Linked DNA regions of Homo sapiens. Each later gene encodes a partner of the first gene's protein in a complex. Each region holds a gene or a part of one and is shown in the gene's direction. Other genes may lie near its edges.

Region 1 (7,034 bases):
ACTGTAGACTTTTTATAGATACTGTATACTTAGGCTACACTAAATTTATAAAAAAATTTTTTTCATCAATAATAAATTAACCCTTGGCCAGGCGCGGTGGCTCATGCCTGTAATCCCAGCACTTTGGGAGGCCGAGGCAGGCAGATCACTTGAGGTCAGGAGTTTGAGACCAGCCTGGCCAACATGGTGAAACCCCATCTCTACTAAAAATTTAAAAAATTAGCCAGGCGTGGTGGTGGGCACTTGTAATCCCAGCTACTCAGGAGGCTGAGGCTGGAGAATCGCTTGAACCTGGGAGACAGAGGTTGCAGTGGGCCGAGATTGTGCCACCGCACTCCAGCCTGGGCGACAGAGTGAGACTCTGTCTCAAAATAATAATAATAATAATAATAATAAATTAACTCTTGCTTACTGTAACTTTTTTACTTTATAAACTAAATTTTTTTTAACTCTTGGACTCCTTTGTAATAACACCTAGCTTAAAACACAAATTGTACAGCTCATTAAAAAATTTTTTCTTTATATCTTTATAAGCTTTTTTCTATTCTTAAAATTACTTTATTTTTTTTTTTTAGCTTTTAAACTTTTTTGTTAAAAGCTAAGACACAAACACATATTAGCCTAGACCTACACAGGGTCAAGATCATCAATATCACTGTCTTCCACCTTTTTACATCTTGTCCCACTTAGAAGGTCTTCAAGGGCAGTAACACACATGGAGTTGCCATCTCCTAGGATAACAATGTCTTCTTCTGGAATCCCTCCCGAAGGACCTGCCTGAGGCTGTTTTACAGTAAATTTTTTTTTTTTGTAAGTAGAAGGAATATACTCTAAATTAATGATAAAAAGTGTAGTATAGTAAATACATAACCCAGTAATATAGTTGCTTATGATCAATTATTGTATACTGTAGATAATTGTTTGTGTTGTCCTTTTATATGACTGGCAGTGCAGTAGGTTTGTTTATACCAGCATCACCACAAGCATGTGAGTAACGCAACATGCAGTTGTTCATCTCTATTATACTCATAGGATCACTGTCATACATGCAGTCCATCATTGACCAAAACATCATTGTAGCACATAACTATAGTTCTAACATTCATGGAGCTTTTTCGTTTTTTTGAGACGGAGTCTTGCTCTGTCGCCCAGGCTGAAGTGCGGTGGTGTGATCTCAGCTCACTGCAACCTCCACCCCCTGGGTTCAAGCGATCCTCCAGCCTCAGCCTCCCGAGTAGCTGGGATCACAGGTGCCCACCACCACACACGGCTAATTTTTGTCTTTTTAGTGGAGATGGATTTCACCATGTTGGCCAGGCTGGTCTCAAACTCCTGACCTCAGGTGATCTACCCGCCTTGGCCTCCCAAAGTGCTGCGATTACAGGTGTGAGCCACCGCGCCCGGCCTCAAGGAGCTTTTTGATCCATTTCTATGGGCTCCCCACCAAGGACACTTCAGTTAAACATTTGGCTGAAGTGTTTGACACCAAAGCACTTGCAGATAGGATTGGGGCAGAAGCCAAGTTGACAGTGTCACCTGTCCCTCATTTCACCCTATCGCACTAAAGTTCTCCCACACTTGCATTTCAGTTTCAATACTTTTTCTCATGTGCCACAAAGGAGGCTGTGAAGTTATCATTTCCAAAGTCTCTGCTGGGCACAGTGACTCACGCCTGTAATCACAGCACTTTGGAGGCTGAGGCAGGACGATAGCTTGAGCCCAGAGGTTCGAGCAGCCTGGGCAACACAATGAGACCCTGTTTCTATCTGTTCTGAAAACAAAACAAAACAGAAGTCTCTTGAGGAAGGGTAAAATTTAAAACATGTAAGACATTAGGATAGCAAAAAAATCTCGGTCTCCAGCACTGTCCTAACTTTCAGGGTTTTCTGTTATCCTAGTCCCTTGTGATAACACACCACATAGCAACTTCTCTTGGGTTACAGATCTTCCTCCTTCCTGACATTGGGAGCATGAGTGATATGGGCTCACATACCCTGGCTGCCTCCTTAACAGTCAGTATTAATTTGGAAGTAAAATGAGAAATGTAACACTTAAATTGAAGCTTATTAAATCCACAGAGGTAATGGCAATTCCAATAAAGCCAAAAGACCTTTCTCATTTTCTTTCTTTTTTCTTTTTTTTGAGACAGGGTCTCACTCTGTTGCCCAGCCTGGAGTGCAGTGGCACAATCATGGCTCACTGCAACCTCAACCTCCCCAGCTCAGGTTATCCTCCTGCCTTAGCCTCGTGAGTAGCTGGGACCACAGGTGTGCACCACCACACCCAGCTAAGTTTTAAATTATTTGTAGAGACGGGGTCTCCCTGTGTTGGGATTACAAGCATGAGCCACTGTGCCTGGCCACCTGCCTTATTTTCATTACATTTTTAGGATGGAGAGACTAGAAGAAAGTTTCTAGAATGTTCTGTTGAATCAAGTCATGGAGTCTAAGTCAAGGTTCTTAATGATGTTTCAGAACTTACAATGGATGGGGAAATCTGGATGTAGGAACCTAAATGGATAGCTCTATTTTCACCTTTTCTGTTGGATCGCTTAGAGCAGTTTCCTCCCCTGGTGTTTAACCATTATGAGATGGAAAGTGTGTTTTCATCTGCATTGAATCCTTGGCTGTAGGCACTGGTATCTGAGTTAGTTGAGCCAGGGAGAGGGCTACAGGAAGGCAAGCATATTAAGAATTGCTTCCTGGCTGGGCGCGGTGGCTCATGCCTGTAATCCCAGCACTTTGTGAGGCCGAGGCGGGCGGATCACAAGGTCAGGAGTTCGAGACCAGCCTGGCCAACATGGTGAAACCACATCTCTACTAAAAATACAAAAAAATAGTCGGGCGTGGTGGTGGGCACCTGTGATCCCAGCTACTGGGGAGGCTGAGGCAGGAGAATCGCTTGAACCTGGGAGGCGGAAGTTGCAGTGAGCTGAGATCGTGCCATTGCACTCCAGCCTGGATGACATGAGCAAGACTCCATATCAAAAAAAAAAAAAAAAAAAAAAAGGAAGTGCTTCCTTCTCCACTGCTTTAGCTTTTAGCTTAGCCTTATGTTCATTTAGCAAAAACTGTTATGAAGACAGATACAGTAGAATGAAGCTGGCATCAGCTGGTTTCTTGGTGACAGTTTTGGACAAAGGGAGGTCGGGGGGCTTTTGAAAAAACAGGGTCAGTTGAATATTGGGCTATTCATATCACATAGGCATCTCCTGCTTTGTCTCTCTTTCTACATGCTTTAACCCTTTCCTCTCTCCCTCCTCCTCCCACAGGAGGAAATCCTGAGCAGCCTGTTCAACTAGAAAATCAATGACTGGTGGAGACTTAGTTGCTAGACCGGCCTTTGTAAACAAAATCTATCTTTGGAAGAGAATGAGGAAACTTATGAGAGCCGTAGCAACCAAGTGTTGTTGTAGCAGCCTACATTTATTGAATACTATTTTGTTCACTGCTCTATTTTCATAAGCACTCTGTATGTGGACGATTTTAATCCTCTAAACAGTGTTATGAAGTAGATAATATTAATAGATGAGGAAACTGAGACAAAGATTGGTAACTTGTTCAAGGGCACAGTGGAGCCAAGATTCAAACTCGGGCAGTTTGTGTCCAGAGTACACCCTTTGAAGACCACCAAGCTTATAACTTTTCTCATATATAATAATTTTTGCCCTGAATTACAGAAAGATCTGAAGCCAGGATCGCTCAGGAGACGATGGAGAGAGCTCCTAGCAGAGTTGGGACGGTTCTCAGTGTGCCCCAATGTTGCAGTTGTTTTTCAGCATATTCTGTCTTTCTCCTCAGTCAAGGACCAACCTACCTTTTCTTTTCTAGTGCTGAGGAATGTAAACAAGTTTGCTGGGCCTTGCGAGACTTCACCAGGTTGTTTCGATAGCTCACACTCCTGCACTGTGCCTGTCACCCAGGTGAGGATACATAGTTCCCAGCTTTTGTCCGGACTGTCGGACTGTTGGGGATGCCTGGGAATGGGGATAGGTTTTAATGCCTATCATGGGACCAGTCTTATAGCTAGAGTCAGGGAAGGACTCAGCAGTTTAACTGTGGTGAACAGCTGGAATATACAGGGCCCGGATTTTCTTGGGCCTGGGCAGCCAGTAATTGTCAGTGTCTTTGGGGTACCATTTTCACCTCCATAAGAAAGTAACTGTTACACAGTGCATTGAAACATTTTCTTCCCCCTTCCCCTTACAGACACTTCTAAGATGGTAAGTGTACATGGCAACAAACAAATAAGTATTTTTAACCTGGCCACTTTGGCGAAAACAACCTCAAGTTGACTGTTATATGTGGTGCCAGTCTCCTAAAACTGACCCTCCAGATGTAATGAGCAAAGAGCTTATTCTTATCACTTTTATGACCTGAATGCTGAAGTGCCAGGTTTTGACCAGGGCAGGAGGTATGAATTGAATATCCCTTATCCGAAATGCTTGGGATTTCGGAGGAAAAAACACTTTCAGAAGTGTTTTTCAATTTTGGATTTTTTGGGATTTTGGAATATTTGCAGAATGCACACCAGTTGAGCATTCCTAATCCAAAAATCCAAAATCCAAAATGCTCCAATGCTCATTCGCTTGAGGGTCATATCAGCGTTCAAAAAGTTTCAGCTGTTAGGGATGCTTGGCCCTTACAGGAGAGGAGGAGCATCTTTGGCTCCCGATGAGCACTTTTCTCCACGTGCTTTCCGTCTCCTGGTTCTGAAGCAAAGCAAGAAGCTTAGCTGAAAGGAGTGGGTAGTAGAATTTGGGTGCCAGTTTCTTGATGGAGAGAAGAAAGGTAGCTCTCCTCTAAGCCCACCCTTTGATGTCTCAAGGTGAGTTTCTTCTCCCAGGAGGCAATTCTTGATGAATCTGTAGCACTCACTGGTAGTTTCTGTGTTAAATGCATTCATAGGTAAAAGTGATGTTCAGCAGTGCCTTGCCACACCCAAAATCATTTCTCAACTTTGATTGTTTTAATGAGTAATAATATCATTTGGGATGTCCTGGTTTTGCATGGTGTCTGGGTTAGCTGACATTGATACACCTCATAAGGTTGCTCATGGACAGCTGTAGGTGTTCATGGTTAACTTTTATTGTGCCCTTACTGTGTGTCAGGGCACTGTTTTAAGTGTTTTAGATGTATTAACTAAGATAATCCTCATCTGCTTTTCTGGATTTGTTACTATTTTTCCCATTTTACAAATGAGGAAATTGAGGTTCAACAATGTTTAACAATTTGCCTGACAGTTATTCGTGGAGCCAGAATTCACATGTAGATATTCTGGTACCAGAGTCCTCACTTTGAACCACTCCGCTTAATACAGTATCCTTTCGATAGCATCTAAATTGGTGTTTTGTTTTGTTTTGTTTTCAACTGTTATTAGTAGGCAAAGCCTTCTTTCAAAATAAAATCGACATGAAGCCTGTGGGATTTAGCAGACTGAGGCAAAGCTTCCCTGGTTGCTTTGGAATGGGAGGCCTGGACCTGCTGGCTCTTTGCCCTCCTGACACATCATCCCTTGTTTCCACAGCACACTCAGCATTGGAAGCACACTGCAGACGGTGTCTCATTAAAGCAGTAGCTCCCTTGAACCCACAAGTTAAAACGCCAGACTTTTATTTATTTGTTTATTTTTTCTGAGTTCTTATTGGCAGACTTCAGAATGAGGTACCTGAGGAAATATAGAAACCTCTGCCTTAAGGTTGATTTTACTAAATGCTCTATTTTCTGGTGCAGTTATTGACTGTCTTATCTCTTTTGTCAGGAATGTCTTTTTTAATTAGAAGACAGGAAGAAAACAAAAACCAGACTGTGTCCCACAATCAGAAACCTCCGTTGTGGCAGAGGGGCCTTCACCGCCACCAGGGTGTCCCGCCAGACAGGGAGAGACTCCAGCCTTCTGAGGCCATCCTGAGGAGTTCCTGTTTGGGGGTGTGAGGGAAAATCAGCGCGGATTTTAAAAAGATGGCTGTGGCCTGCCCGGCGTGGTGGGAGGGGAGCTGGTTTCCTGGTGAACTTTCTAAAAGGAAAAATAATTTTAAGTAAAGAAAAAAGAAAAAAAAGGAAGACTAAACAGAAACCAGAACTGAAACATTCACCTGGTAGCAAATGACACATGCACGCACACACACATACACGCACAAGCGCCAGTGCGCACGTGTACACAGAAAAACAAAAGGACAAGCTTTCTGTGAAACAAAATATTTACTTAGGGATAATGTGGGGATTCACATGAATTAAATAGCTGCAATTGGAAGAAGAGGGTCAGGGTCATTTGTTCAGGTTTTCTATTGTTTTGTCCTCTCTTTCCTCTCCTACCCTTCCTTCTCTTTCTCTCTCCCCTCCTTTTAAATGCAAATGAGTAGAAATTTCTTCTACCTTCCCCAGCTGTTTCTTCCCACCTTTAGAGTTGTTTAGACAAGGAGGAGTAAGCAAGGAACTTGTTCTGCTTTCTATCGTGGTCACATTGGTGATGCTCGGGACCTGCCAGGGTCAGAATTTATGGATATCTGAACCCTGACCCCGTTCATTCTCTCAGTCCACTTCCAATCCACATCAGTTTGTTGTCTGCCTTGGAGAGAAGAGCCAAAACTGGGGTGGGCGGGTGGGTGGGGAGTGCAGGATATAAATGTGTAAGTTTTTGTTTTTTAAGGTTTTTTTCTTAGTGAATTATTCACCCACAGACATGAGAGAAAAAAAGAGGGAGGGTGTGTGGAGAAAAAATGTTTACAGGGCTAACAAGGGATGATGTGTCATTTAGTATGTTACTAAAAAGTGTGGAAATGACTTGATTTTAAGGGGAGGGTGAGGCCGAAGAGGGAAGCCCAAAGCAGATCTTAATGTTTCAAAGGAGTGCAGCCCTTCACAGCCATCAGATATGAGGGCACTGTTCTGTCTGGTGTTGTAGCCATCTCAAGAACAAATCAACAGCAACAAAAGAGAAAGAATAAATTTTTAAAATTTAACCAGTGTTTCTTTGTTTTTACTTTCATTCACTGCCTTGTAGCTCGGAAATGGTTCAGCTAGACTAGCTATGGA
Region 2 (4,324 bases), on another chromosome or scaffold:
TTGAAGGATGTGATGTTCATTAACATTCGGTTGTATTCCCCAGTATTTGTAATGGGAAATTACAGATAAACCGTGTCTGCACAGTTTAAGGAATACTATGTATATTCATGCACCGTATTGATTCATGCTATAGTTACTTAATCAAAGATTTTTTTCAAACCTGCCTTACATATAGGCCCACTTTAAAAGCACCTGACTAGCATGTGTTCTTGATTGCAAAATTGGCAGAGGCAGGGTGTCAACTTGATTAGGTGTTTTTATGGGAATGTAATTTGAAATCACTACTTCAGAAATTTGACTTAAAATTCTTGAGCACGTTAATATGTTTTTAAGATCTGATTATCTTTGAGAGATCTTCTGTTAATACACATTGGTTGTTAAAGAGTACCCAAATTCTAGGACAATGCTTAAAGTGTTAAAATACCCTAGATACTGTGTTATGTGCAACTGTAGAAACCCTCCAGAAATTTCCACTGCTGTTCTTCACTTTCATCTTGTCTGCTATCAAACCACTTCTGACAAAATTAGCTGTTTTGAATTACCCATATCACTGCCAGTTTTATTTTAAAATATTTTGTGTTTGAAGTATCTGTGCATGGGATCGTTGATGTTTATCAGAACTGTTCACTTTCAGAAATGATTTTTTAAAGCATTTTGTTGAAAATGCGGTTGCTTTTTTAACATTATTTTAGAGTTGTATCAAAATTTTCCTGTTTTCTGTATATTGTTGTGTCATTTCTTGGCTTTTTAATATTTTGACTACAATGCCCTAATGCGAAGAAGTATGGACATATAAATATTACAAGAGAAATTAGTTAATAGTAAAGGGTTAAAAGGTAAGTAAAATGTCCATGAAAATAAAATTTTCTTTGAACAGTTTAAAAATGGAATCACAAAAATCTAACTGCACTTGAAATGAAACTGGAAATTTTATACTAATTAAATCCTTTATTTACCTTTTCATATTTTATCAATGGAACCTTTTAATTGCTCCTTCTATATCACTCTTCTCCTTGCTTGGCTGATCTCATTACATGACTTTCGTTACAGACAGTGTGAGTGTACTAGATTTGTTTGCTGCTAATCCGTTATTTTAAGTGTTGTCAGAAGGAAATAACTTCTTGGTTTGACCAAGTAATTTTGCAAAGTCCTTCTCTACCTGATAACACGTGAATGTATAGCAGTAAAGGTGAAAATTGCAGGCCTTGTTTTGTTCTTCATACCCCCTTCAGTTGTTTATGGGTTAATGTTATTTGAAAACTCTTCCTTTTTTTAATGTGTAAAAACAATCCAAAGAGATAAATCCTTGCATAGACACCAAAAACAGTGTCTCAGAGACCTTTTCATTTTTTCCTTAGTTAATAACTGTAGTGGATGTGAAAACAAACGAGTTGAATTTTAAAACATAGCATTTATTAGTGCTATACAGTCACATTCCTTTCAGCCAGTAGTAAAGTTAAACAGATGAGTGATACAGTACCTGAATGGTACTGCTTCTGAGGCAACACTTTGGATTGAAAGTGCTGCTTTTGGTTAAAGGAACTATGTTGTGGAAAGCATATTCCAGTGTAAATTTGCAGATGTGTGTTTTTTTTTTTTGTCACTTTTCATAAGGTTTGGAGTAAGTTGCAGTGGCTTTTGATCATAGTTTAGCCCATTTAATGGTCCTTTTACCTAGAATGTTCTTAAGCAGTTAATGACAATTTGGAATACACAGATAACTTGTAGCTTAAGATACTATTTTCATTTAATTCTCCTGTGGAGAATATTGCTTTATTTTTTACTAGTTTCAGGTCAGTTATTAAAATAAACATGGAGGTTTTAATGAATGTTGTATAATATTTTATAGTGAAGGAAAATTGTGGAAAGGGCAAAGACTTTCTCTTTCCCTTATGTATTTAACTGTGCCAATCTAAATACATACTGTTTTATACAATGAGATGCATTACAAGACTTTTCTGTTGGAGTGCTCTCGACATTTTGGTTTTCATACCTGAATGATCATTGCATTTTCTGTATTTTCTAAAATGGCTCCAATTTTGTGTTTTAAGCTTCAGCTTAAGAGGAAGTTTATGTTCTAATTCTTGACTGAGAATACAGTATTGAGATTCTCTGTTTTACAGATAACAACTGGTTTTTATTACTCATTAAGTTCATTTGCATCCCGTAGCCCTCTGTAAATGTTTCCCCTAGTTGTATGTACGTAAATGCACGCTTATCCAGTGTATATTAGACATTTTTGTGCTAAAATATATTAAGTGGGATTTTTGTAGCAAAGCATTCTATTTTTCTGTTCTTACAGTGTGTGTGTGTGTGTGTGTGTGTGTGTATGCGTTTTTTTAACCTTAACTTCAGTTTAAACACTGGTGTATTTATTTTTTTAAGCAACTTGACTCTTAGAAGCCTTAGACTGATTTTTTCAATAAATATTCAACCAAAAATTATAAATTTATTAAGATGTGGCCTTACATATGGCATTCCTTGTGTTCGTAATGTGAGATTTTTGATTTAGATAAATCAAGATTCAGGATTAAAGTTTCATTGTAAGTTGAAATAGAAAATGTATTAAAATGTCTAGGCTTCTGGGAGGAAGTTCTTATACTCTTCTTTCTTGGCATTAGAAAGAAGCAATATGAATTTTTGTGAATATTCTAAATATTCAGGCAACACTGTTCAGATTGATTTAGGTTTGTCTTAACCAATGTTCTTTTTTTAGAATTTCAGGTTGTGGCATTCACTGAGTATGCAGCTACTATGGTTTTTGTATGGGACGTATAAATACTTGATTATATACGACAGATTTTAATGTCTTTAAAGACTTCCTGCTGTATTAACATATTGTAATGGAGTCTTTTAAATACTAGGTTGAATTTAATTGAAGTCACACACATCTTGAAGTGGTAACTGCATAGTAAATACTACCAAGAGTTTTTTTCACGTGGGAGTATCCTAAAACTCTGCCATGGGTGTAAATGTTTTACATTAATTTCATAATTGGACAGACCCTGCATTTAGCGAAAACATTTTGTTTTGAAAGTGTGTTCTTTTTGTCGCACTGTTACTGCGTAACACTTCTCAACATTCTGTAAGTTAAATTATTTTAAAATAACTATGGTGAATTCATGTTTATTTTTTTACTTTGAAAATTGTAGTACTCAGGTGGTATTTAATGGGAAAGGATCCTTTGGGTATAAATCATAATGTATTTTAAGGAATGCATCTATAACATTGATAACTTTAGCCTTAAAAAAAAGGTCTATTATTCCTTCCTCTGCATCCCATGGTATATTAGCAAAGTAGTTTACAGCCCTGTACAGCCTTACAAAGTTGTTTTACAATTTTTAATGGAAAGCCCTTAACAACAACAACAAAAAATTGTATCATTTTACCAATATCCACGAATTACTGATCACAGTTTGTAAATAATTTGTTTAATATCAGAAGGCCAAAGAAAGTCTTAAAATTTTAGCTATTGACTCTATGGTGACTTCACAATAAGATTTCTGTGCAAAAAGGTAAGGTGATAATTGATCTAATAGACTTTTTTTTTTTTTTTTTTGCTGTCCATGAGAATTAGACTTCATATTAGCTTCAATTAAAAAGCTCATTCCATTTTATTAAAATGTTTGTAATTGCAATTTTGTGTTTAATGTTTACTTTGTCTTTCCTTTCTTTAGCATTTAGGTGACTGTTCGGCAGTTTGATATATGGCCATTGTCGGCCTTAAACTGCACTAGTAACAAGCATGGTATTTATCTTGTATTGAAAATAAAACAAACTTTTGATAAGACTTTGCAGTTTGTCTTTTTTGTTTAATTTGTTATTTGGTAACCATTGTGTATGGTTTTAAGTAGTTAATGTTTATTGGCAATATGCAGTATAGCAGAAATTGGACTGTTGTCTGTATTCTATCTTTAAGCCAGATAGTGGTGGTTTTCTTGTGTATTGACATTTTGGTGCTCTTTAAAGCGACTGATAATTGGGCTAAAATTAGGATTAAGAGGCCTGACAGATTTCCAGGCTGTTACATGGTTTTTAAATGGAAGATTCAGAAAGCATTTGTCTAGTTTTAGAGGATCATTAACCTTACTAGACTTAAGTAAAAATGTTTGTAGCAAAAATATTTTACTGGTTAGCTTGGAAACATTATGGGGTACTTTTGAAACAGTAACAGACTTCAGTTTCAGTGATTTCAGTAGATATTTCTGTGCCAGGTATTAATATCAGGCCTCAGATTTCTTACCTGCAAGCTTCAGAGTATTAAAGGTAACAGTTCTAAACAAGTGAATATGAACATGAGAAATAATACTACCATCACTGGGAT

What was found. Proteins that work in one complex are often made in the same cells at the same time.
Region 2: the proteins of TNPO3 (region 1) and CPSF6 are in contact, whole or in part, in a crystal structure (PDB 6GX9), measured with the Homo sapiens proteins. Residues at the interface, in NP_036602.1 of Homo sapiens: Arg620, Asn656, Arg657, Glu660, Arg661, Arg664, Arg667, Phe668, Arg671, Ser698, Cys699, Tyr702, Ile706, Asp709, Asp747, Asp750, Asp751, Arg754, Arg758, Gln761, Cys793, Arg797; in NP_008938.2 of Homo sapiens: Tyr521, Arg522, Glu523, Arg524, Ser525, Glu527, Arg528.

The regions. Positions count from the first base shown.
Region 1 is NC_000007.14:128,954,112-128,961,145, reverse strand, and holds the end of TNPO3 (transportin-3), read left to right. Parts: intron 1-3,679; exon of another isoform or gene 3,680-3,830; coding exon 3,831-3,891; 3' UTR 3,892-3,922; intron 3,923-5,760; coding exon of another isoform or gene 5,761-5,779; 3' UTR 5,780-6,961; downstream 6,962-7,034. UniProt on the Homo sapiens protein: Importin, which transports target proteins into the nucleus. Specifically mediates the nuclear import of splicing factor serine/arginine (SR) proteins, such as RBM4, SFRS1 and SFRS2, by recognizing phosphorylated SR domains.
Region 2 is NC_000012.12:69,270,569-69,274,892, forward strand, and holds the end of CPSF6 (cleavage and polyadenylation specificity factor subunit 6), read left to right. Parts: 3' UTR 1-3,790; downstream 3,791-4,324. UniProt on the Homo sapiens protein: Component of the cleavage factor Im (CFIm) complex that functions as an activator of the pre-mRNA 3'-end cleavage and polyadenylation processing required for the maturation of pre-mRNA into functional mRNAs.